Homo sapiens: one gene and its partners. The protein of the gene in region 3 interacts with the protein of the main gene of each other region in a biochemical or structural test. Each region holds a gene or a part of one and is shown on either strand. Other genes may lie near its edges. The genes, in order: PDGFB, ITGAV, COL6A1 and THBS1.

Region 1 (7,700 bases), on a different chromosome or scaffold from region 3:
GACAAAGAGACAGAACCCCAGAGGGAAGGGGACCTGGGGGTGCAGGGGGGCTGCTGACCAGGGCTCCAGGGAACAGGCCAGAGGTTAGAATAGAATGGAATTTGCTCTGAAGACAGCGTTTATAAATACATTGTCAATCCAGCCCGCCAGCCCCGCCACGTGTGTGCCACCGAGCACGTGCCCATTCGCTGAGTGAGCTCTGGGGCACGGGCAGGGCTGCCTGCTGGTCGAGGCCAGGTGTCCCCAGGGGACCTCACAGACCGGGCCCCTAGCCAGAGGGGCGGGGAGATGACTCCTCCAGTGCCACCCTCCCTGGCTGGGCCCACACCTGGAGACATACTCGGCAGATGCCCTGGGCACCTTCTCCCCGCCCTCCCTCCTCCTGGCACCCCACCCTTGGCACCAAGCCGGAGCCACACGTGGGTGCTTCTCCTGCCACACCCCAAGTCCCAGGTACCAACCCGCCTGCTGACTCGGCCCTGCCCTGGATGGGTGTGGCCACGCTCTCTCTGGGCTGCCATGGGCCTCTAGTTCTCCAGACGTCAAGAAGGAGGGATGCCTCCTGTCCTGCCCCTCCCAGATCTCTTAAAGTCTCCTCGGAGGGCCGGAGCGCGGGGCGAGGATTCCATTTACCTCCGGGGTCTCCGTGCAGCAGGCGTTGGAGATCATCAAAGGAGCGGATCGAGTGGTCACTCAGCATCTCATAAAGCTCCTCGGGAATGGGGTCCCCCTGCCGGGCAGACACCAAAAGGCTGAGTGAGCTGGGAGTGGGGGCTTTCCAGCATGGCTGTCTCCCCCACCACACGCTTTCTCGCTTTCTCCTGTGGAAAGCTCCAAGGTCACAGGGAGACGGACAGGCAGGATCCAGGCCTGATGATCAGGAGCACAAAGGCCTCGGGGCCTGGACCTGCCGAAGCCTCTGAGACCCAGCTCAGTCCCTGCACCCTCAACCCCCAACAGGAACCCCAGCTTGCTTTGAGTTGGACCTGCTTGTCTCTATGTCTGTCTCCCCCACCAAACTACATGTTCTGGGAATGCACCAAAATCTGATTTCTCCCTGAGTCTCACAACACACCTGACAGCTGAAGACAGCCAGCATCTCCCATGGCCAATCTAACCCCCATTTTACAGAGGGGAAAACAAACGTTCAAAGAGAGGCTCAATTATTGGCAAAAGCTGCATTCAAACCCATGCCTTTGGGATGACAGAGCCTGTACTCCCAGGCTCCTGGGTACAAGAGGTGCTTAATAAACGCGTGCAGAGTGCGATGGCCTCAGGAGGCCCCAGGTCCTAGCGGTATCTATGAAGTCTCTCACTCGAAAGAGGCGAAAAGGGAATCCTCGGACACGGCCGGGAAACCTGAAAGCTTACCCGTGCCCTGTGCCCAACCAAACCCTATTTTTAGAGCCCCTTTGGCCTGTTGCCAAACATACTCGAAACCTGATAACACTTCAACAGGCCTCATTCGGAGCTGGGCTTCCTCCAGGGAAACCGCAGGTCCCACAATGACACAAGAGCAGCCCCGTAGGAAGGTCACAGCCACGTCCCCCACAGTCCCAGGAGACCCAAGGGGCGGATGCCAGAGATCCCAAGAAAGAGGCGAGGGCAGATGGGAGACTGAGAATCACAATCCAGACCACCAGCCACTGAGAAGCAAAGAAAATTCCTAAGATGTCGCTGCACGTTCAAAGGCTGGAACCGGACTTCCACGTGTGCAAACACACACGTGCAGGCACAGGCACTCGGGCTGCACGGTCTGGACAGACAGTCCTGGAGAGGGCATCAATAGGCTTGGCACATTACTATAGAACCTTGGGTTAAACTATTTTCTGCCTCAGTTTCCCTGGATTAAGAAGGGAGGACTTCCCTTCTTGGTTCGCTCCACATTCCCGGAGCCGAAGGTCGGGGGGCTCAGAGGGGGTCGGTGCAGGCTACCTTCACAAAAGGGATGCTGCTTTCTCGCTGCCTGACGGCGGAGGGGGAGCGAGGGAGAGGAGAAGAGGTCGTCTCAGCCCTGTGGCCAGCCTCAGGGGGCTCTCCCCGAAAGCTCTGTTTCCTCCAGCTTATCATGAGGTCTAGCAACACCTCCAGGGGTTCATCCATGACCAACTCTGGCCACCCACATCGATCCAGGAGCCAGAAGACTCAGGGCGGGGGGTGGGGGTGACCACTTTTAAAGCTACATCATTCCCTGAAACCCCTGAGTCTCCATGTCTTTGTTTGAACATGGAGCTTACAACTCCGCCCAATGTCTAAGGGCTGCTGGGCAACTTGAGGAAAAAAAGGTGGCAGGGCTTGGCTGAGAACTAGGGTCTTTCCTTCAATATCCGGGCAGCCAGGGGCTGCACGTGCAAGACAGAGGAGGGTATGGGCCCCGCTGCCCCTCACTTTCGGCCCCATCTCCTCCGGGCTCTGCCTCCTCCCGCCCTCAAGCAAGTTCATTCTTTCCACCTCAGAAGAGAGACCACGCCTCCGGTGCTCTCCAAATGTTGACAAAGTACCCAACCCACAGAACAGAGGGCTTGGTCTCCAGTGAACACCAGCGAAAGCCGCTTCCCCTGAGAGTTCTGTCAAACCCAGAACTGGCAGGCCAGAGAGCTGAATCCCACGCCTTTGGACCAACTGCCGTGTGACCTCGGCTGGTCACTGCCCCTATGGTCCTGGCTCTCATCTGTGAATCGAGGGGCTTGAAGAACATTCGATTCAATTCTAATTCTGCCAGGAGGCGTTAGAAGGGGCAGAGAAAACGCCAAAGCCGGGTGCCTAGCCAGGCCTCCCTGGATCACTGGCAGAAGGAGAACAAGAAGCGTTTGTGGAGTAAAGATTCAATTAACCCCCCAGGGGAGGGGCCCAAAGGCCTAGTAGCAAATGGCATTTAGTGCTTGTGCCAAGATCTCCCTGCCCACTGGAGAGCCGGCTGCAGCTGCCAGCCACGGCAGAGGAGGCAGACCCCTGAACAGGCCGAGTGGACACCCCAGATCCAGGCCCACGACACATAGGAGATGCCCCTCCAAGGCTGAGTGTGAAAGAGCCCAGGATAGGGTCTGAGGAGGAGAGAGAGGCACATAGTAGGTCCTCGGTAAATACTGGTCAAATGCATGAAGGAGTCTACCATTTTCCAGGTTCTGTCCAGTATGATTCTTCTGCCTCCTCCACCAGGAGGGCCACCTGGGATATTCTTCCCCAACCCTAGGCAAATGAGCAACTAGAGTCCCTTTTAATCTGAGCAGGGAGACCGTCCCTGAAGATGCTTTTGGTAATGTGGCCACTAGATGCCCAGAACTACCCATAAGCCCCCGGATTTGGTAATAATACCACAACTAACATCTATGAATGCCAGCTACAAGCCACACGCTGAGAAAAACACCGTATAAACTACCAATCCTAAGAGGCTGGCAGTATTTGTATCCCCATCCTCCAGATGAGAACACTGAAGCTTAGAAAAAATTAAACAAGCAGCAACAGGTCCAGACAATTAGCAAGTGGCAGAGCTGGGTCGTTCCCAGGCTCCAGACTGCCCACCTGTTCCAGCCCACCATGGGGCGTCTCAGCCTCCCTCTCCTGTGTTCTAAGGCCACTGGCCCTCAGCATCACACAAGGTTCGTGTTGGCTCTTTACTCTGCAGCATGTCCCACGTCAGAGGCTCTCAACCAGGGCCCAGTGGGCCCCCAGGGGACAGTGGCAATGTATGAAGGCATCGCTGGTGGCCACAACTTGGGGTGTGCACTGCATCTTAAGTTGGGGGAGGCCGGGGATGCCGCTCACCACCCTTCAGGGCACAGGACGGCCTTCCCAAACATCAGGAGTGCAGAGGCTGAGAAACCCTGTAGCGGAGGAAAGAGCAAGGGCTCCAGATGCCAGGGCAACCTGGATTCTTGGAATCTTGTCACAATCTAAAACCTCGGCTTCTGCATCTTTTAAATGGGGCTAATAATACCTCGCCCGGGGTTACTGGGAGGCATAATTGCACAGAGCAGAGCTGCCAGCAGATAATGGGAGCTTAATGAGTTGTCACTGTCATCATCATTAATTCTTTCCGGATGGCTCCTTTGTGGGCAGCAGCGAGTGGCACACGTGCTCAGGGCCAGCAGCACAGGACATTTTTGAGGATGACAAGGAGTGGGTGGAGAGCTGCCTGCCCATGAAAGAGTGCGTGACTTTGCATTATCCCTTGTGCTGGGCCACAGGAAATGGTACCCTACCTCCACACTGGCAGAGCCTGGGCCGTGTGGGCTTACAAGGCCCTTCCGGGGCTGGGGGTGGGTGAGGGTGGGGGGACACTCAGCACGTGCTCAGCTCCAGGATGCAATGCTCTGGGGATGACGAGCATGAGCACCTGTTGGGAGTCACAGGCTCTTCTTGGTATGGGAAGGTGAGCCGCCCGGAGCCTGGTTTTCCTGGGCACAGGTTCCGCAGGCCTCCAGGTGGACAGCTCACTTCAGAGATGGGAAAGGAGGCCTGGCACCCTGAAGAAGCTGTCCCAAGATCTCAGGCCCGGGGTTTCTGGCAGAGTGAGGGCGTGGCGAGGAGGCAGCTGGGGCAAAGCCAGCCGTGGGAGCCAAGGTAAACAGCCTCCTCCGACCCCGCCCCCAGCGCCAGCTGCAGCAGGTAGGAAGGGCACGAGCGAGCGTGAGGCCAGGTGAGTGATCTGCTCCCAACCAGGCTGGCAGATCAAAGGGGCTTGAACCCCACCCTCCTCCTGGGCCCAGCACACACACACAGATACACACTCCCCGGCCCGCCTGCCATTCCCACCAAGGGACACACAGGCCCAAGCAACCAGGGGCGTTGTCTGTGGCTGGCAGAGGAAGAAGCTGATGAGGCCTCCCAGAGCCTGCCTGCCTGAGAGTCGCAGGCCTTATTTAGATCGAATGCCAAAGCCAACCAACCCCTTTGAAGAAGCCCTCTCGGGGCAAACCACAGAAGCCATTAGAACCAGTGTTTCCCACCTAGCATTCCCCTTCTTTATTGCTCTTGGGACCCTCCCGCTCAGCCTCTGCTCCTTCACGTGGGCCCAGAACCCTGGCCTCCCCACCTCTTGCAGGAGCAGAGGAAAATTAAAGCAGGAAGAGAGGAACCAGTCCAGCCATTTATAATACTGGCAACCACGGCAATCACTGCCCATCCCCATCCCAGCCAGGGGACGGGGCCAGGGGATTCTGCCATTCTTTGGGAACTCTGCACTAATCCAATCTTCTCTCTCTCTTTTTTTTTTTAGGTGGCAGAAACTTAGCCCCAGCTAAAGATACACAGAACCTTTGCAGTCTGATTTTCTTTCTGTTTCTTCTCCTCTGTCCTGTCTAATCCTGGTAGCCCAAGTCCCAAGACAGAGGAGAGACAGACATGCTTCTCTCTCAAGATGGGGGGCTTTGAAAGACTGATGCCTACCAGAGGGCTGAAAAGGGGGGCTGCCCTCGGAGCAGAGCAAAGCGAGGACTCAGTGGGGCCATGGAGCAACAGGGGGCCAGGTCCTGCCCTCCCCACCAACCCAGCACTAACTGTTCTTTGCACTAATAGTTACTGATTGTCCACAGGGCTCTGGGCACTGTTCTAAAAGTGGGGACCAGGAGGAAAGCTCTCTAATGGGGTTGACACTCCAGTAGAGAAAGCAGGTAATAAACAATGAAATAAACCAGAACATAGGAAGAGTTGTCACAGAAGAGGCTCCTCAATGTGGGGAGGGGAAGACAAGACGTGGAGAGGTACTTACGAGGCCCATGATAAACATCTCACCATTCCTGCTCAGTCAGTCTCTCTCTCTCTCTCTCTCAGATGCGCACACACACACACACACACACTCTCTCTCTCTCTCTCTTCCTGGCTCTTGCACCAGATCCTCCAAATTCTGTTTGACCTGCCCTTGCACACCTCCAGGGCTCTGGGATTCCAGCAGTTGGTCTCCTGCCCCCTAGGGCCATTAGCAAAGCCAGAGGAAGCTGGATGGCAAAGGGCAGTGGGGCCCTTCACTCTTTCCCGGAAGAAGTGTGCTGAGGCCAGACGCGTCACGTGACAGTGGGACTCGCCCTCCTGGAAGCCAGCTCAGCTGGTGGAGATGGCACCTCAGAGGCCTCGGCAGGCCCTCCACCCAGCCCTGCCTCACGGCTGCCTGCCGTCTGCTGAAAGATTAGTCCGAGCACGACCAGGACGTGGACAGCTCCAAGGCCACCTCCACCAGCAGGCCTGCCCTGACTCTCCCAGCACTGGCCATTACAGCTCCTTCCTGGACTGACCCCTGCGTGGTTCCATCCCCATGCAGGTCCCCTCCCCCAGGGCCAGCCTGAGGCTCACTCAGGCTTAGCAGCAAAGTGCTTCATAAACTGCAAAGTGCCACATACATCGCGCCTGTGGCCATGTGTTCAAGAATGCTGTGACTAAAGTGAGGAGAAAGGCAGTTTCTGTGCCACAGCCTCCACCCCAGATACACGAGCCCGTGGAGCTGTGGGAAAGAAGGAGGAGGTGCTGGACGAAGCTGGAAATGGTAAGGGGAGGCTGGGGAAACATCCAGCTGTCAGCGGCCTCCCCGGGGCACGCTGGGATCAGCCAAGAGAATGCAACAGCCAGGGGTGGGAGCCCCCTCCGCGGTTGCACACGCCAGGTCCCTCCAGTCTTGCAGGTTCAAATGAAGGCTTATGTGAAGGGGGAATCGCTCTGGACAGCTCAGTGCCCCTCAGAGTCACATCACCACCATTTTCCACCACGCGGAGGTGGTTGAAAAAAAGGAGTCACAGATGGGTAAGGTTTGAGGGGCGTCGGGCTGACGAGGCAAAAAAAAAAGTAGGTGCTGTGGTGCTGATGGGAGGTTCTCCCTCCCTCACAGGACGCCAGGAAGGAAATGGGGCCGCTACAGAGGTGGTGAGGTGCCAGGGCCCACGGAGGGCCCACCTGTTGCGCGGGGGCGAGCACCAGGCGCTGGGTGCACGGGGGCCCGTGCGTGCCTGTGTACGTGCGTGGGTGTGCGCGCACGTGTGCTCAGGCCGCGCGTGCAGGGGCCGTGCGTGCGTTTGTGTGCGGTGCGCGCGCGTGTGTCCCGCGTGTGCACGGGCGTGGCAGAGGCGGGCGCGCGACCTGGCCGCGGTAGTGCGTGCCCGTCGCTCTGCGCGCCCGCCCGCCGGAGCGCAGCATCGCCTCCGGCCAGGAGTGTGCATGCGTGGGGTGAGTGAGCGAGTCGGGGGCCCGGGCGGGGTGGGCTGCGGAGAGCAGCCACGGGGCGCCGCCGTTCCCAGGACGCCCTGGCACCGGGCCCAGCCCCCAGGTCCCACGGCGAGGCGAGGCGGCAGCTGGGGCCGGCCGGCCACCCCCTCCCCAACAGCTGGCCGCGGCCCGGGGGGCTGCGGGAGAGGCGGAGAGGGGGCGTCGGGAGGGGCCTGAAGGCGGCCCGGCCGAGCCCCGCGTCCTCCCTCCCGGGTGCGGGCCGCGGGGGGCGGCCGCGGAAGGGCGGGGCCCCCGGGCGGGCGGCCTGCGGCCCTCGAGGAGCCCCGAGAACAAAAGGAGACGGCGACGGCTCCTCCGTGGTCAAAACAACCTGCGCTGGCGGCAGCCCAAGGCCGGGCCGCGGCCTCCGAGCCCTCCGCCTTAACCCCTTCGCCGCCGCTGCCTCCTTCCTGCGCCTGGCTGGAGGCCGCAGGGGCCGACCCTCCCCGGGAGCCGGCGAGGTGCGGGCGAGGTGCGGACTCCCGGCCGCAGCCGGGCGGAGGTGGGAC
Region 2 (7,700 bases), on a different chromosome or scaffold from region 3:
TTATCTTACAGTTGGCAATGTGTAGATGTGTATGCCTTAGAAGCAGAAGGTCCTTCAATGGTTCTCAGTCCTAACTTCATGTTTGCAATATCTGGAAAGCCTTTTAAATAAAACTCTTGCCCTGGCTGTATCTTAAATCTAAAAGTAGATCTCTGACTTGATATTCCAGTGGCCTGGCCTGTGAATCATTTCTCGTTGACTAGCCTGTCTTAACTCAATTTGACTAAAAAGTCTTCACCAAGAGATGTTAGTTGCACCTCTGTTTCTATTAATGCTGGCATCATTTTCTCTGTCACCTTGGAAATACTTTCATATTCCTCCCTCTCATGTTCTATTTTTCTGTGTTTCTCCTACTTCACCACCTTAATATCAGTCAGTGATTAGTCAACAGGCAGAAGCTCCTAGAAATTCTTCCTTTTTAAGGTTTTCTTGATTCCATCTCTGCTTTCTACTCCTTATTTCAGTGTAGTTATGACAAGCATAGTCAGTGGCACTCAGGTCCTCCCCCATCCCTCTGCCCATCATTTGGCTCTTAAACGTGCAGAACATCTTGTCTGTTTCTATTCATTTTATCTTTCTGTAACATCCTTTTTCATCCTGGTATTCTGTTGCAAAAATTTTCATAATAAAGCTTCCATTGCCAGCAAGAAAGTCCAAACCGCTTAACATGGATTAAGGTCACTTGCAATCTGTCCCAACCTGTGTGTATTTTTAAAACTTCATGTACCATTTCTACTCTTACCATTTTAACCCTTTTCACAACACTTTACAAAATGATGCCAGCTCATTTTTTATAAACTTCAGAGTAGCTCTGATTATATTGGCTGATTTTTCTCATCATAAATAATATACATGTATATTAGGGGACATAAAACTAGGCTATAATTTTGTTATTTAGAAAGCAAATCCTATATTACTTCTGATTAAGGACATATGATGTTTCATAGAGCATTATGAAAGACAAGGGAAAATATGTGGAAATTGTAGTTACTGCTTCTGTTTTACAGTAGTTGTTGACTGGCATTTTTGTTTTTCTTTTGATTCAAAAAAGCATTTTTTAAAAAATGAAAAGTAAATCTGAAACTGGAATTGTAGCTTTGAAATAACATTCAGTACTATTTCATACACATTTATTTCTATATACATGTATGATAGTTTTTCAGAAGTTCCTTTTGGTGAAGGCTCATTGGTCAACTCAGAGTCAGCTAAATATATTAAACATGCTTTATCTTAGAAAGGTCAGTGCTGAAAGCAGACAAACAAGTTAGTTTATTTGGAGGGTTTGAAAAATGGACTTGTCATTGTTTGGCAGGTTGCCCCTCCTTGGTTGTCAAGGTCACATTCCGTGAATCAACTGCCCTTCAAGTACAGTTTGGATAGGGAGTGCATCCAAAGGCCATCCTCCTGATTGGTTCCTCTGAGCCTCTTGTCTGTCTCCCTCTCACTGCCTCCTCTGATACCTCTCCCTCTGTATCGCTCTCTCTTTTTTCTTTTTCTGTCTCTTGTCCTTCCTCTCTTTTTCCTTTCCTCTATCTCTTTTCTTCCTTTCCATCCATCTTTCTGTCCTCTCTCCCAAACTCAATCCTTTATATTTTAGCACTTCTTGGCATGGATGTAAACCTTAATTTTGAAGTCCCAGAGAGTTATTTAATGGCAGTGTTTCCAGTCATTAAAAAAAAAAATGTTGAGGATGGGGATTCTGATGATGTTCTTGGACATACTTTTTGGAGGGAAATGGAGTCTATCAGGAGAGAGTTGCGGGCATAGGAAATTAAGTCACTCAGCTTCAGATTTACACTGCTAATCAGTGAAAACTCTTGTCAACCTTACCTCACCCTGTGTATTCTCCCCACCTCGCCACCATTGATAAGAAATGTTTAAGCTGGCTTTTCTACCCTTCTTTCTCTTTTTCTTCTTCATTTGAGTTAATCACTTGACCATTAATGGCCCTTTGAAAACACTGAGGAAAGAAAAGCCCTTTTAAAGACAGAATTTAAGTTTTACATTTTCTACTCTTCTAGGGAATAACTTATTAATGGCATCAATTGTTTTCAGGACGAAGATGATAATTAAATCCCATCATCTTGTATTTTCGTGGTGTTTCAGATTTTCTAAGTTTGCATTTATTTATTATCACCTTCAGAAAGTTTCTTTTTAAAGTAATTACAGTGGGCATTGTTATTGCCATTCGATAGAAGGGAACAGAGATTCAAAGTTACTGCTTCAATTGATTTGCAGTGTTTGTAAATTTTAATTCCAAACTGTTTCCATTAGATAGTGCTGCTTAGATCACAAACATTTTTTTTCTGGTCTGTCAGTTCTCTTACCCTAATTAAGCTGTTGTACACTTTCATTAGTCATTCTTAGATGAAATTCAAGTAACAATTATTTTTATGGAGTGTTTTATTAACTTTGTTTTTTGTAGTATGTGTTGCTTTTTTTTTTTTTTTGAGATGGAGTCTTGCTCTGTTGCCCAGGCTAGAGTGCAGTGGCACAATCTTGGCTTGCTGCAACCTTCGCCTCCTGGATTCAAGCAATTTCTGGCTAACTTTTGTATTTTTAGTAGAGATGGGGTTTCACCATGTTGGCCAGGCTGGTTTTGAACCCCTGACCTTAAGTGATCCTCCTGCCTTGGCCTCCCAAAGTGCTAGGATTACAGGCATGAGCCACCGTGCCTGGCCTGTGTTGCTTTTTATTCCTTAATTTTTTTATATAGCATCTTTTATCACCTTGTACCCAGTTTTCTATGCAAGTATTTCTTTTTCACTACACAGCTTCCTCGTAAGACTTTAACATATGTCTAAGGTCATTTTACTTTCTCTATCTCTTCATTGTTCTCTTTAAAAAACTTAAATATCTTAATGATAACTTTAATATCGAGATGGCATTTTGGATGAAAAACTTCATCAGCTTTTTTCCCTCACAAATTTAGCATGTAGATATTGACACATTCCTTTTATATTATTCTGCCATTTCTGTAGCATTTCACCAGTATGCAAGTCTGCACATGAAGGTATGCTTAGGAAAACTTAATGAACATCCATTTGTACACCTGATTACCATCATTTCATGCCTATAATGTGCAGATAGCCTGATGAAAAGCAACAGGCTTGTTCCTGGTATTATTCAAGGAACTCATGCTATGTGCTGCCAATAGAGTGGTGTTTTCATTCAGAGAATGCTCCTACTGGGCTCTTTTTCTCTGTCTTTGTTGAAGGCCTTCTCCTAATAACTTCCGAGCTCTCTCTGTCTTATAGTGCCAAGTAAAGAAAGTATCTGAAACCCAAAATTAAGTAGAGATGTTACACAAGGAAATTGTTTTAAGGGTAATTTAAATAATTGGATGTTTAATAGAGGATGCTTTCTGCATTCTTGAGGGGTTCAGACGTAGTGGAAATGACTTATTTATATATGGCTACTTTAAGATTGAGACATAGCTATTGAATTTACTTTGTTACTCCACTGTCCATTTAAACTTTTCTTGAGTTCTTATAATGTGGCAGGTGCAAAAGATGAATTAGAGTACCCTACATTCAAAGAAGCAATTTATCATAAGGTAGGCAGAATAGTTTTGACCAAAAAGTTATAAAATATATTGTAAGACAGGGGTCCCCAACCCTCGGGCCATGGACCAGTACCAGTCCATAGCCTGTTAGGGACCATGCTGCACATCAGGAAGTGAGCAGCAGGAGAGTGAGCATTACCACCTGAGCTCTGCCTCCTGTCAGATCAGTGGTGGCATTAGATTCTCATAGGAGCAAACCCTATTGTGTGAACCCTGCTGTGAAGTGTGCATGCAAGGGATCTAGGTTACATGCTTCTTATGAGAACCTAATACCTGGTGATCCGAGTTGGACAGTTTCATCCCGAAAGCATCCCCCTCTATGTCCAGGGAAGGAAAGGTTGGGGACCACTGCTGTGAGCTACTATTTGAAGACAACCCAGAAGTGATTTTTGCTTGTAGGTTTCCAGGCAAAGCTTGAGAACCAGTTCTCCTATCCTGATGTAGAACCTGGTATGATCTACAACACTAAGAACGTGTACATACCTGTGCTTGTATTACTCTCATTAGGACTACTGTGGCAATGTCCCAAGCAAGCACTATTCAAGATATTGACCCTCAAAAGCAAACTTACCTGAACTGTTCTTTTGTTCTAGTATGCACTCAAAAATCATTTAATTCTGATGAAAAGGGGTAGTTGTGTGATTTTGGGGTCAAATTTTAGACCCGTAGAAAAAAAATTGTATATGTAATAAATTTACATATTATAATTTATACACACACACACACACACACACACACACACACACAGAGTTTCACTGTGTTAACCAACTCTGCTCTAGAAAAAGAACCGATGGGGTTTTGATGACGAGCTGCTCTCTTAGTTATGGGAGGTGGGGACTCTCTTACTCATAGCATTTTTTTTTTTTTTTTTTTGAGACAGAGTTTTCCTCTGTTGCCCAGGCTGGACTGCAGTGGCGCAATCTTGGCTCACTGCAATCTCCACCTCCCAGGTTCAAGTGATTCTCCTGCCTCAGCCTCCCGAGTAGCTGGGATTACAGGCTCATGCCACCACGCCTGGCTAATTTTTATATTTTTAGTAGAGATGGGGTTTTGCCATGTTGGTCTCAAACTCCTGACCTCAAGTGATCTGTCTGCCTCAGCCGCCCAAAGTGTTGGGATTGCAGGCATGAGCCACTGTGCCCAACCTCTTTTTTTCTTATGAAAGACTTTTGCTGAATGAAAACTAAGTTCATTTTCTACCCAGAATCATTTTGCCGTGATGGGAGAGAGCCAACATTGGTGTTTTACTGATGCCAGATATGACTGCATGGAGCTCTATTAAATAGGGCGTGGTTTGGTTGGGAGTTACGTCTTTATTTTGAATTTGTGGATTTTTAAGATAAGTGTCAGAAAGCAGGATTCTTTGTAACCCTGCAATTCGTACAGCCAGCTTTTGTCTACTGTAGATGAGATTTGGCAGCTACTACCCAGAATAAGAAATTGATTTTAAAAGTTCAAGTGAATGCATTCCATATTTAAGATGTACATTCGTTCTAATTTCACAAAAAGGTGAAAAGCAATTGTAAATGTTTCCTTTGCCAGAATAATTTAAGTGACTTAGTATTTAATGAAACAAAATGATTATGGTGATAGCATTTTAGGACTGTTTTTGTCTGCCTGTATCCTGCTTTATTTCCTCCTATATTTCAATCAGTTTCTTGAGATTAAAGACAAAAATCTTTTTTACTTTATCTTCTTTCTCTTCTTGACTCCTAAATGTTGTTGTCCCTGAGAACTCACTCATTGCCCCTCCTCTTTCGACGCTTCCCCTGGCTGAATAACCCCAACTGTGTTCTGATACAGCATACTGTCTCAGGCAGGGCTTCAGACTACAACTGGATGACTCACAGATATCTCAAACAAACATATTAATAATTGAATTCATGGTTTTTCTGTAAATACTAATTTTATTTTATTTCTTGAGACAGGGACTCATTGTTTCACCCAGGCTGTTTGCTTACTTTGTAGCACTTGTAATCACAGCTCACTGCAGCCTCAACCTCCTGGGCTCAAGCCATCCTCCTGTCTCAGGACCCCAGCTCCACCCCCAAAGTTGGGACCACAGGCGCATGCCACCACACCCAGTGAATTGTTTTATTCTTTGTAGAGATGGGGGTCTTACTATGTTGCCTAGGCTAGTCTTGAACTCCTGTAAGTACTTAATCTGCCTTCTGCTTCTCTGCTCTCTAGGCTTTTCTCCCATCAATGCACTCAAGAAGGAAATCTAGGTGGCATTCTTGAATGTCTTTTCTCTCATATTCAGGCCTCCAGCGATTGCTGTTGTACTCCAGATGTTTTTTTCCATCTGTCACCTATCTTTCCACCCACCCTCTTACTGCAGATCACACTCACCTGCTCCCTGAGCTGCGGCCAGTCCTTTGCTTTCCTTGTTCCATTTTTTTCTCCCTCTCCCTTAATGCTTTCCCCATAGGGCATAACATTTAGTTTTCTTTAGTAGATGATTTCATTCTTCTTAAAAAACTCAGTGGCTTCAAATGAACCTTGGGATAAAATACAAAGTTTAACCATGGCCAAAAGGCCCTATTTGACTTAGTTATTGCCAGGCTCCTTGACCTTATCTTGTGCCACTCCCGGCTTGTCCCCTCCTTCAGCCATACCTTTCTTTGTAGCTCCTGGAGATTCAATTCTTTCTTGCCAGGGTCTTTCTACCTCTGCCTCACATATTCCCTCCATCTCTTCATTCCACTTCCCTCATCCCCACCCCCCACTCCCCTCCATCCTCAATACACAAATGCTCCTAGGCACCCTCCTTCTGATCCTGTACATCTTAATGTTGTGGTGAGTTCCTTAGAAATAACTTCTCTGTCTACTTTATCTAAAAGAGAACTTTCTTCCCCATTCTTTAAAGATGATTTCCTTAGAGAGACTTTCCTTTACCTAGAGGAAATCTTTCCCCTCTCATCCTTAGAGATAACTGCTCTGTCTAAAGAAGGTCTCCTCTCCCTATTCCCAAAAATCTCTCTCAGCTAATTGTTTGCTTACTTGGTAGGACTTGTAATAGTAATTTATTTATTGGCTAGTTTCTTGCCTCTAAGGGAATGTAAGCTAAATTCCTCCATTAAGAGCAGGAATCAGCCAAGCACAGTGGCTCACGCCTGTAATCCCAGCACTTTGGGAGGCCAAGGCAGGCAGATCACCTGAGGTCAGGAGTTAGAGACCAGCCTGACCAATATGGTGAAACCCTGTCTCTACTAAAAATATAAAAATTAGCCAGGCGTGGTGGTGGGCGGCTGTAATCACAGTTACTCAGGAGACTGAGGCAGGAGAATCGCTTGAACTGGGGAGGTGGAGGATACAGTGAGCCAAGATCATGCCATTGCATTCTAGCCTGGGTGGCAAGAGCAAGACTCTGTCTCAAAAAAAAAAAAAAAGGCAGAAACCAAGGTTGTTTTAGTCATCTGGTATCTCTAGCACTTAGGACCTTGCTTTATGTAGAGGAAGCACTCACTTCATATCTTTTATGAATGAATAGAAAACAACAAAAGAAAACATCTCTTTAAAATTAAAAATTTTACTCCTGATTATTGTGTCTTTGGTTTATTTTACCTTAATGACAAAGAAATTGAATAGTGGTCCTAATCTTTGACCAAGAATTGATTAGATTAATCTTGTGATAAGAAATTTTTTATTAAATAGTCAACTATTAAAAAAAATTAAGCCTAGGCAATGTGGCGAGACCCCACCCCTACAGAAAATTTAAAAAAAAAATTAGCTTAGCATGGTGGCATATGCCTGTAGTTCTACCTGCTCAGGAGGCTGAGGTAGGAGGATCGCTTGAGCCAGGAGTTGGAGGTTGCAGTGAGTTATGATTGTACCACTGCACTCCAGCCTGGGTGACAAAGCAAAACTGTGTCTCTTAAAAAAAAAAAATAGAATAAAATAAAAATTACAGCAATATTTCTAATGCAAGATAATTTTTCTAAATGGGAAAATCATATTTATAATTATACTTTGGAATAATTTACTTAGAATATTTTTTTTTTTGCTCAACATTCAGAATATAGAAAATGCATAGTAATTCTCTCACACACGCACATGCACACACACACACACCAGAACACCAAAACAAAACTTTCCTGCCTCTAGGCAGCATACATTTTTAAGAGCTTTACTG
Region 3 (3,925 bases):
CCAGATGGAGGGGACGGCGGGGTCCAGATGGAGGGGATGGCGGGGTCCAGATGGAGGGGACGGCGGGGTCCAGATGGAGGGGACGGCGGGGTCCAGATGGAGGGGACGTCGGGGCTCCAGATGGAGGGGACGGCGGGAGTCCAGATGGAGGGGACGGCGGGGTCCAGATGGAGGGGACGGCGGGGTCCAGATGGAGGGGACGGCGGGGTCCAGATGGAGGGGACGTCGGGGCTCCAGATGGAGGGGACGGCGGGAGTCCAGATGGAGGGGACGGCGTGGTCCAGATGGAGGGGACGGCGGGGTCCAGATGGAGGGGACGTCGGGGCTCCAGATGGAGGGGACGGCGGGGGTCCAGATGGAGGGGACGGCGGGGTCCAGATGGAGGGGACGGCGGGGTCCAGATGGAGGGGACGGCGGGGTCCAGATGGAGGGGACGGCGGGGTCCAGATGGAGGGGACGGCGGGGTCCAGATGGAGGGGACGGCGGGAGTCCAGATGGAGGGGACGGCGTGGTCCAGATGGAGGGGACGGCGGGGTCCAGATGGAGGGGACGTCGGGGCTCCAGATGGAGGGGACGGCGGGGTCCAGATGGAGGGGATGTCGGGGTCCAGATGGAAGGGACGGCGGGGTCCAGCAGGCAGGCTCCGGCCGTGCAGGGTGTGGACTGTCCCGGGGGCGCTGGGGGCTTCTGAGGGTGTCTCTGTCCGCCCTGCCCTCAGCCGCACTCTGTTCAGAAGGACCTTTCTGGAGGTAGGAGGGTGAGAATGTGGGTCCCCTGCTTCTGTGTGGCTCACATAGGATGACCTTAAACGTTAGAATTAGCTGCTGATAATTAAAACTTGCCATGAGGCTGCTCATGGACCTCAGATTTCTGGCTTCTCCTAAAAACCATCAAACCCAGCAGCTGTGGGCCCGAGTCCCATGGCCATTTCCTGGGGGTCGAGCTGTGACCCTGGGGGGCTTCTGTGCTGCACGTCCCTCCCACCTGTGCCTGGGGGTCAGCAAAGCCGAGCAGACAGGAACGAAGGCAGGGAGTGGGGGGAGCTGGCGTGCGGGTTGGAGCTCCCAGACCCAGGCTGACCAGATGTGATGGGGAAGGTGCTTTAAAGCCCTTGATCCCTGAAGGCTGGATGAAGCGTCTTTTTAAAAACCTGTTTCGTGAGCCAGCTTTTTAGAAAGAAACGGGGCTGCCCCAACCTTGACCTGTTTTGTGTTCCAGGGAGAACGAGGCAAGCCGGGGCTCCCAGGAGAGAAGGGAGAAGCCGGAGATCCTGTGAGTGCCTGACTGTGGGGTGGGGGCCCTAAGAAGCTGGAGGCGGGGAACGACTAGGCCTCGGAAACTTCCGGAAGAGTGGCTGGGTTCTGAGTGCCAAAGTCACACTGCCTGTTCCTTGTGGGTGGGAGCAGACCTGGAGGGGCCACAGCCCAGCCATCCTTCCACACAGCCCCCCAGGCAGCCCGTAAGCCCCCCTGCCAGGGAGGGGCTGGGTGGGGAGGTGGCCCAGGGTGCTCAGGCCGGCACCGTCCGGGGCCCCTGCCGTGGCTCCTTGGCCCAAATCCTATCCATAGACTTCCCTCCCCCAGCTCCACCTTGGAGGGCCTCGGCACCATGGGCCCCGTGCAGCAGGGCCCCTCTCTCGGCCTGACCAGGCCTGGGCTGGAGGGAGGGGTGTGGGGCTGGGTGGGACTGGCCCCTGCCCCTGCTCCTCCGGGGGTGTCTCACCATCTCCTCCTGTGTTCCAGGGAAGACCCGGGGACCTCGGACCTGTTGGGTACCAGGGAATGAAGGTACGTGCCCCCCCTTTCCTGGCCCGAGCCCGGTGGTGCCCTCAGCCTTGCACAGCACTAACAAGCCTTCCTCTTCCTCTTCTTCCGCTGGGTGTGTAGGGAGAAAAAGGGAGCCGTGGGGAGAAGGTGAGTGAGGCTCGACCTCGGAGCTGGTCTCTCCAGGCGCAGATGTGCCATCCTGGACGAGGGTGTCCCCGGGGATGAGGACAGTGTCCCTGACAGGAGACCACGTGTCCTGCAGACCCGCTCCACCGCCCCTCGCCGTCCCCTCCATCTGGAAGGACAAGGACAGCCACCCAGGCACCCAGCAAAGGCGCCTGTGTCACTTTCACCCCACCCCAGAGCAGGGGTCCCCCGGGCGGTTACCCTCTGCGGAGCCGGGGGTCCCCCGGGCGGTTACCCTCTGCGGAGCCGGGGGTCCCCCGGGCGGTTACCCTCTGCAGAGCGGCCCCTCCCCATCACTGTCAGTCCCCATGATTCTCAGCAGTGATGTTGTCCCCTCGGGTTGGGGGCACCCAAGCCCCTGCCTCGCGTGGGCCTAAGCCAGGCTTGCCCTGCCCTCCCCACCCCAAATACCCCCTCACACCCGCTTCCTGTCTCCGCAGGGCTCCAGGGGACCCAAGGGCTACAAGGTGAGCGTGGGCTGCTGGGAGGGGGGAGTTCTGCCCCCACGGCAGCATGTCTGACCTGCATCTGACTCCTGCCTTCGTTTTCCCGCCTCACAGGGAGAGAAGGGCAAGCGTGGCATCGACGGGGTGGACGGCGTGAAGGTGACTGGGGGGAGATAGGATGGACGGGGAGGGACGAGGAGGAATGGGGCGAGATGGGGAGGGACGGAGTGGACGGCGTGAAGGTGACCCGGGGAGGGATGGGGTGGACAGTGTGAAGGTGACCAGGGGAAGGACGGGGAGGGACGGGGAGGGATGGGGTGAGGTGATCCCGGCAGGAGGGACAGGGAGGAGTGGGGTGGACGGTGTGAAGGTGACCCCAGGGGGGTGTCTGCTAGGCAGGGCTTTCCAGGGAGGGTGTGGAGGGCATGGAGGGCACCAAGTCTGACAGTTGATTGGCCTCAGTTTACCCACTTGGCCGTCAGATTTTCTAGTTTTCTTCCTCTTTCCAGGGGGAGATGGGGTACCCAGGCCTGCCAGGCTGCAAGGGCTCGCCCGGGTTTGACGTAAGTCACTTCCTCTCACTGATACTTTAAAACTAGCGCTGTCAGCAGCACCTCGTGTGGACCGTTTTGACTTCTGTCTGGGCGGTCTGGGGCTGCTGCCAGAGGCCGCGGTGGCCTCTGCCGGTGGTGTCATGCTGCCCTCTTTTCTCCAGGGCATTCAAGGACCCCCTGGCCCCAAGGGAGACCCCGGTGCCTTTGGACTGAAAGGAGAAAAGGTGAGTGACTTGCGGCCCCTGGAGGACCAGGGCCTTCACGGTTGGCCAAGCGCTGAATTGGAAACCTCTCCTGGAAGCAAGTCCTGGTCCGAGCATGTCGGCCACCCGTGCGGCCTCAGAGGGGAGGAGCTGGTGGAGGCTGGAGGCAGGCAGAGGAGCAGCGGGGACAGTGCCCACCGTGGGGACAGTGGCCGTGGCGCTCCCGCCCAGAGCCTTCCCTGCAGCCCGAGGGCCTTCAGGCCTCCGCCATTCTGTCCCCCGCACCTGCCGCTCGCTCGGCACAGATGGGACCCCACCGCGTCACTCCTAGCCTGCGAGCCGCAGCCCAGAATGGCTCTCAGAACTGAGAATGGGCTGGGTGGCACTGAGGGTGGCGAGTGGGCGGGAGGGTGGTGAGCGGGGGCGGGAGGAGGGTGGTGAGCGGGTGGGAGGGCGAGTGGGCAGCGGGAGGGCGGGAGCACGAGGCGGGAGAAGGAGCTTTTTCGTCTGACAGCTGAGTCTGCCGTTGCTGGTGTTTTCTCTGGAGTTTCTTTGTTGAAGCTGAAGTGTTGGGGAAGACAAAGGCGAATGCTGACCCCACCCCAAACATTCCCAGACGAGCTCCTAGAACCCAGCAGACGGTTTCCAAATCTCATCTTCAAGTTCCCAGATTACCCTCCAGGCCCTAGATTTGAGTTTGCCAATTTGCCAGCCTGGCAAAGCTGTGCCTTCTCTAATGGGAACCAAATCCTGCCCCTTAGACAAGATGG
Region 4 (6,715 bases), on a different chromosome or scaffold from region 3:
CTGTCCTTGTTGTCGTCACCAAGGGCAGCTCCACAGCATGTATATTAAGAACACGGGTTCTAGGATCTCTGGATCCCAATCCCACTGCTTAGCTGTGCACCCTTGAACACAACTTACCCTCTCTGAGGCTCTTTCCTCATTTGCAACTTGGAGATAATAATAGTTCTTGATAAGTTTATCTTGAGCATTTTATTTAGATACTGCATGTAAAGCAGTTAGCACTGAGTTTTGGTTTATGGTAAGCACCCTGTAAATGTTAGGATATTAACAGCAACCCATAAAAACAGCGAACTTATCCGTTCTCTGGTAGAAAACATTCCATGTTGACATTTGGGCATGTGGCCAGGAGCCAATTTCTACCGTACACTGGGTTTAGTTGCCATTGACCATTTCCTGGAAATACTTCTGCGTGCTCCTGATGGGAGCCTCTATTTGGCTGTCTCTAAGCCAAAACCATTTGTGACCATCAACTCTGTACTTTAGTTAAACAGGATGGTGGCTGGAGCCACTGGTCCCCGTGGTCATCTTGTTCTGTGACATGTGGTGATGGTGTGATCACAAGGATCCGGCTCTGCAACTCTCCCAGCCCCCAGATGAACGGGAAACCCTGTGAAGGCGAAGCGCGGGAGACCAAAGCCTGCAAGAAAGACGCCTGCCCCAGTAAGTGTGAGGTCCGCTGCAAGGGTGAGCATGGGCAGCAGCTCTGCCCAGCTGGTTGCCTGGCATCTGCAGCCTGCAGTTCAGTGGGTCATAGAGCAGGAAGGTTACCTACTAGAGAAACAAACAGAAGCAAAGTCCTGCAGGCTCAGCAACTTCTTTTAATGAAAAACAAACTCACCCTCTTCCCCAGCATTCTTTCCATGTGTCAGAGAAGCAGAGGTTTCTTGAACGGGCTTAGGAGAGTCTATGACAAGGGAGGGATTTGAAAGTTGATCTTAATTGTTGCCTGTGGTTCATCTTCTTACAGTCAATGGAGGCTGGGGTCCTTGGTCACCATGGGACATCTGTTCTGTCACCTGTGGAGGAGGGGTACAGAAACGTAGTCGTCTCTGCAACAACCCCACACCCCAGTTTGGAGGCAAGGACTGCGTTGGTGATGTAACAGAAAACCAGATCTGCAACAAGCAGGACTGTCCAATTGGTGAGCCACGCAGCCCAGGATGAAACGACCCAGGAGCTTTGCTCTTTTACTGAATGCTGCAGTCAGCATTCGAGGAGATTCCAGCTTGGTTAGTCCTGAGCGATTTGATTGCTCTAAGATGCAGGTGGACAACATAATCCCAACAAGTTATCGGTTCCCTATACCCTATAATATCTTACACTGTGTTAAGTGCCCAGCATGGCAGTATGGCAGCTTAGACCAACCATTTACTGTGACTGTCTCTCTCTCCTTGTCTCAGATGGATGCCTGTCCAATCCCTGCTTTGCCGGCGTGAAGTGTACTAGCTACCCTGATGGCAGCTGGAAATGTGGTGCTTGTCCCCCTGGTTACAGTGGAAATGGCATCCAGTGCACAGATGTTGATGAGGTGAGGAACTGATGGGGCTCCGAGTTTCTGGATCTAGGAAAGCAGCTAACCTGTGCAGTCGCTTCCTTATGGCAGTGACTTCTAAACATGATGCACGCTCTTATTTCCTCCATAGTGCAAAGAAGTGCCTGATGCCTGCTTCAACCACAATGGAGAGCACCGGTGTGAGAACACGGACCCCGGCTACAACTGCCTGCCCTGCCCCCCACGCTTCACCGGCTCACAGCCCTTCGGCCAGGGTGTCGAACATGCCACGGCCAACAAACAGGTACAGTCAACTAGACGAGTAAACCAGAGGACAGGAGAGCTGTCCTTGACCAAAATAACTGGGAGCGGGAGGAATGTAATTTCATACCCTTCACCAAAAAAAAAAGGGCGAGGAGATGAATGTACGGTCTAGTTTTAGAAACGTGATTAGAAAATCCATGGTAAATCCTGCAGGGGAAAAACAGTCTTCCATATTTAAAAATGCTGCTCTGGAATAAGTTGTGAGCAGATGGACTTGTAAACGCCTAGGTGCTGAGCAAATTCAAGAAAAATAAACATAAAGCAAAGTTTGCTTATAGCCTCAGGGAGAATGGGGAGGGACAGAGGTAACCCACACTCTTCCAAATGGAGCCTCTGTCTACTCAGAGATGACAGGGATCTGGATTCTTGTTTCCATGATATCTGAGGATTCTCAAAAGCTCTGTGTAACAGCAGCATGGTGTACCCTCAGGTGTGCAAGCCCCGTAACCCCTGCACGGATGGGACCCACGACTGCAACAAGAACGCCAAGTGCAACTACCTGGGCCACTATAGCGACCCCATGTACCGCTGCGAGTGCAAGCCTGGCTACGCTGGCAATGGCATCATCTGCGGGGAGGACACAGACCTGGATGGCTGGCCCAATGAGAACCTGGTGTGCGTGGCCAATGCGACTTACCACTGCAAAAAGGTAGAGCCAGGTCCTTTGTGTGCCTCCAGAAAGAGGGCCCATCACCTTATCAAAACACAGGCTAAGGAATTTTAAATACTTAAAGTTTGGACATGAAACTGAAAGATTAAATCTCCCAAAGGGAGAGGGGCACTAATTCCTATTAAAATTAAATCACTTGGTGCCAAAAACATGAACAGGGCTAGCTCTTTTTGGGCAACTGTGTTCCATAGTCAACTCTTCTGTCCAAAAAAAAGTTCAGTACTCTATCCAAATACCAGCAAAGCATGACTTGTGTTCACAACATCTATAAAGCCTAGAGCATTTACACAAATTCTGTATGTATATCCCCCAAGAAAAGTTTTATTTTCTTGTCTTCCCATAAAAAAAATATGCTGTTACTGAGCCAAATTCTGTTCTTTTTCTATTTGGAATTCCAGGTACACTCCCTCGTGCATGAGCTCAGCATGAGGAAGGCAACTGAAGCAGTGATATATATCTTCTCTTTCCTAGGATAATTGCCCCAACCTTCCCAACTCAGGGCAGGAAGACTATGACAAGGATGGAATTGGTGATGCCTGTGATGATGACGATGACAATGATAAAATTCCAGATGACAGGGTAAAAACAGTTTTCTATCCCTTTTTCATCTTTTCAGTTCAGCAACAGCCTGAAACACTTTGGGATTCAAGGAAATTACATGGCTATAGCAAAAAATATACCAAATCAATACACAGGATAATTAGAAATTATTCATTGTGTTCCAGTAGTTTAAGGATGTAGATGTTGCCAAGAGAATTTTTAAATGAGGGTTTTGTTTTTCATCAGAACTGTTTTTCTCTGTACTTGAGAAATTATAATGCATAAACAAATGCCACTTTGTTCCCTAGATTCATTTCAAATGTCACATCGAAATTACAGTAAAATTGACTTTGGGCACACTATGAACTGAGATGATGGGATTATATTCTACATCTCACTAACTTCTAACCCACAGGGATCCATTTTTTTAACTATGTCCTTTTAACTTTTGTAGTGATCGTTTTACACTGAGTGATCAATTAGCCTATCCACTAGGTAGAAAGTATTGCTGATTTTCACAGTTTTAGACATATTATGCACATGGTTTGAGGCTTGAGCTGTTTTCAAGGACAACATTGTTAAGTGCTCCATTTCTTCTCTTTGCAGGACAACTGTCCATTCCATTACAACCCAGCTCAGTATGACTATGACAGAGATGATGTGGGAGACCGCTGTGACAACTGTCCCTACAACCACAACCCAGATCAGGCAGACACAGACAACAATGGGGAAGGAGACGCCTGTGCTGCAGACATTGATGGAGACGGTAAGGTGCTGCCTGATCAGAGGGCCCGCGGGAGACAGGGACATGCACAGCTTTCCAAACGTACTTCTGTCTAGTCCTGGCTATTAGTATGCACTTTGGTGGAAACATCCAAGGCTGGAGAGCCCAGCTCTTATTTGTCCCTTGTTCTCTTCAGGTATCCTCAATGAACGGGACAACTGCCAGTACGTCTACAATGTGGACCAGAGAGACACTGATATGGATGGGGTTGGAGATCAGTGTGACAATTGCCCCTTGGAACACAATCCGGATCAGGTAGGTGGATGGACTCCTTTCAGAGTCTTTCAGTAAACTGTTGGAATATCCCTTTCATGGCCTTTGAAAAATGAGCTTAACAAAGTTCAAACACTTTCATTACTGTGGCTCCCTGGCTTCTCATAGCCAACTGGAATACGTTCATGTAAATAATTTGCCTGATGTGAGCTCCTTGCACAGAGTCTCACAGATCTTTAGCATGAAGATCTGGTAACTTCAGTCTTACCTTCTGTAAGAAGGGCTACTGGACTTGCTCAGCATCGTCTACCATTGTTAAGACAAATTATACAAAGCAGACATCTGTGACTGACAACTGTACAATAATATTAATCATATGTAATACTAAGAGATGGAAAAATAAATGTGCATAAGCAAAATAACCATTTTCATGGCTAATGATGTAATCTAGCTATAAGAAAATCATCAAACTAAGGATACATCCAAAACCAAAGTAATTTATCCCTGTCATAAACATTACCCAGACAGTATACAACACAGGGACCAGTGGTCTGTTTCCATCTTTTCAGGACTTTTCAGAGAAGTCGACGTGTCAACAGTTTTACAACTGAAACCTTCTAAGGAAATTCTCTGTTATAAAGTATCCAGAAAATTTCATTTAACATTAAGATGTAAACAGTTAACATTTCATTTCATCTTTAGTAATTAAATATCACTCTATTTGACCTTATTTAGAAAGTTTTATATGTAAAACATTTTTAAATTATCCCTTCTCAGATTTTTATACGAAAACAAAGATAAAGGAAAAAAACTTTTAAAATGTAATTGCTACTATTGCTATCTTTCTGCAGGAGTGTGTAAATAGACATGACACCCCACTGGCTGTATCAAACAATGGAGAATTTTCCCTGTGGTGGGGGCATAAGTTATCTTTAACATGAATGGTTTATACTGCAATTTACCCTCCATTTACATCTCTCTTTCAGCTGGACTCTGACTCAGACCGCATTGGAGATACCTGTGACAACAATCAGGATATTGATGAAGATGGCCACCAGAACAATCTGGACAACTGTCCCTATGTGCCCAATGCCAACCAGGCTGACCATGACAAAGATGGCAAGGGAGATGCCTGTGACCACGATGATGACAACGATGGCATTCCTGATGACAAGGACAACTGCAGACTCGTGCCCAATCCCGACCAGAAGGACTCTGACGGTGAGTCATGGGAGCCACTTTCTAAGACAGGGACTGCTGGCACAGCTGTGTAGATTGAAGAAATGAAACCAAGGCTCAAAGCATTTGACAGGATGAAGGGACCAAATGCCAACTTAGACAAGATAGTGACATTTCTGACACCAGTAATAATAATAGCACTTTAGAATTTTGCTGAACTCTTGCTTTTTTGACCTCAGGCGATGGTCGAGGTGATGCCTGCAAAGATGATTTTGACCATGACAGTGTGCCAGACATCGATGACATCTGTCCTGAGAATGTTGACATCAGTGAGACCGATTTCCGCCGATTCCAGATGATTCCTCTGGACCCCAAAGGGACATCCCAAAATGACCCTAACTGGGTTGTACGCCATCAGGGTAAAGAACTCGTCCAGACTGTCAACTGTGATCCTGGACTCGCTGTAGGTGAGTAGCGAGTTCTTAGATCCTAAGAGACTGATGCATACATGGGGAAAAACAAATATAAAACCTGGCAGTTGTACCTATCCCTGTGGGTGCTGAGGATGTCTAGGAACATGATGGAGAACCTTCTGAAGGCTGCAGGTTTTAACCTGGCTCTGGGCTCTTCTTCCAGGTTATGATGAGTTTAATGCTGTGGACTTCAGTGGCACCTTCTTCATCAACACCGAAAGGGACGATGACTATGCTGGATTTGTCTTTGGCTACCAGTCCAGCAGCCGCTTTTATGTTGTGATGTGGAAGCAAGTCACCCAGTCCTACTGGGACACCAACCCCACGAGGGCTCAGGGATACTCGGGCCTTTCTGTGAAAGTTGTAAACTCCACCACAGGGCCTGGCGAGCACCTGCGGAACGCCCTGTGGCACACAGGAAACACCCCTGGCCAGGTAAGAAGCAAAGCCCTGGAACAGAGAGAGAGCTTATGGGTGCCTGACTAGCACTGGGGATGCTGTGCTTTGACCAAGACTCTGACCAGGGAGTCTTAGAAAGTTCCCAGCATCACCAGCTGCAGCATTGAACTCTGCTTTGTAAAAACATAATAGTGTTGAAAAGGGAGCTTGACCAAGAATTGCCCTGCAAATCCTAAGGTGCCTTCAGCCTTTTCAAACAAAAAAACCTCCTTCCCTCCTCTCTGTCTGCTTTATATGTGTGCTCAGTGGCACACAACAAATATGAGAGGACTTGGAAAAATTCCCCATTGCAGCCCTCTAACTTAGATCAGCTCAGTACCTTTCAAGCATTGTTTCTGATGGAATGAAATAGAAATCTTTACCTGAAGGAGCTGTGTTTCAACCTTTCCTTTTCCTTTTCCTTCAGGTGCGCACCCTGTGGCATGACCCTCGTCACATAGGCTGGAAAGATTTCACCGCCTACAGATGGCGTCTCAGCCACAGGCCAAAGACGGGTTTCATTAGGTACGATCATACTGATTCACTTTCACTTACAGTCACACTGAGGGACAAAAAGACAAAAAGTATTAAATAGCATTGTC

Evidence for each region.
Region 1: the proteins of COL6A1 (region 3) and PDGFB form a complex in vitro, tested with the Homo sapiens proteins (one study listed by BioGRID).
Region 2: the proteins of COL6A1 (region 3) and ITGAV form a complex in vitro, tested with the Homo sapiens proteins (one study listed by BioGRID).
Region 4: the proteins of COL6A1 (region 3) and THBS1 form a complex in vitro, tested with the Homo sapiens proteins (one study listed by BioGRID).

The regions. Positions count from the first base shown.
Region 1 is NC_000022.11:39,235,145-39,242,844, forward strand, and holds part of PDGFB (platelet-derived growth factor subunit B isoform 1 preproprotein), read right to left. Parts: intron 5,984-7,700; exon of another isoform or gene 5,869-5,983; intron 5,766-5,868; exon of another isoform or gene 5,729-5,765; coding exon of another isoform or gene 5,711-5,728; intron 731-5,710; coding exon 634-730; intron 1-633. UniProt on the Homo sapiens protein: Growth factor that plays an essential role in the regulation of embryonic development, cell proliferation, cell migration, survival and chemotaxis. Potent mitogen for cells of mesenchymal origin.
Region 2 is NC_000002.12:186,594,018-186,601,717, forward strand, and holds part of ITGAV (integrin alpha-V isoform 1 preproprotein), read left to right. Parts: intron 1-6,187; exon of another isoform or gene 6,188-6,317; coding exon of another isoform or gene 6,318-6,364; intron 6,365-7,700.
Region 3 is NC_000021.9:45,987,866-45,991,790, forward strand, and holds part of COL6A1 (collagen alpha-1(VI) chain precursor), read left to right. Parts: intron 1-1,218; coding exon 1,219-1,272; intron 1,273-1,742; coding exon 1,743-1,787; intron 1,788-1,886; coding exon 1,887-1,913; intron 1,914-2,392; coding exon 2,393-2,419; intron 2,420-2,512; coding exon 2,513-2,557; intron 2,558-2,907; coding exon 2,908-2,961; intron 2,962-3,113; coding exon 3,114-3,176; intron 3,177-3,925. UniProt on the Homo sapiens protein: Collagen VI acts as a cell-binding protein.
Region 4 is NC_000015.10:39,587,559-39,594,273, forward strand, and holds part of THBS1 (thrombospondin-1 precursor), read left to right. Parts: intron 1-483; coding exon 484-660; intron 661-967; coding exon 968-1,141; intron 1,142-1,400; coding exon 1,401-1,528; intron 1,529-1,643; coding exon 1,644-1,796; intron 1,797-2,246; coding exon 2,247-2,465; intron 2,466-2,957; coding exon 2,958-3,065; intron 3,066-3,632; coding exon 3,633-3,792; intron 3,793-3,946; coding exon 3,947-4,065; intron 4,066-5,009; coding exon 5,010-5,244; intron 5,245-5,441; coding exon 5,442-5,669; intron 5,670-5,838; coding exon 5,839-6,110; intron 6,111-6,540; coding exon 6,541-6,638; intron 6,639-6,715. UniProt on the Homo sapiens protein: Adhesive glycoprotein that mediates cell-to-cell and cell-to-matrix interactions.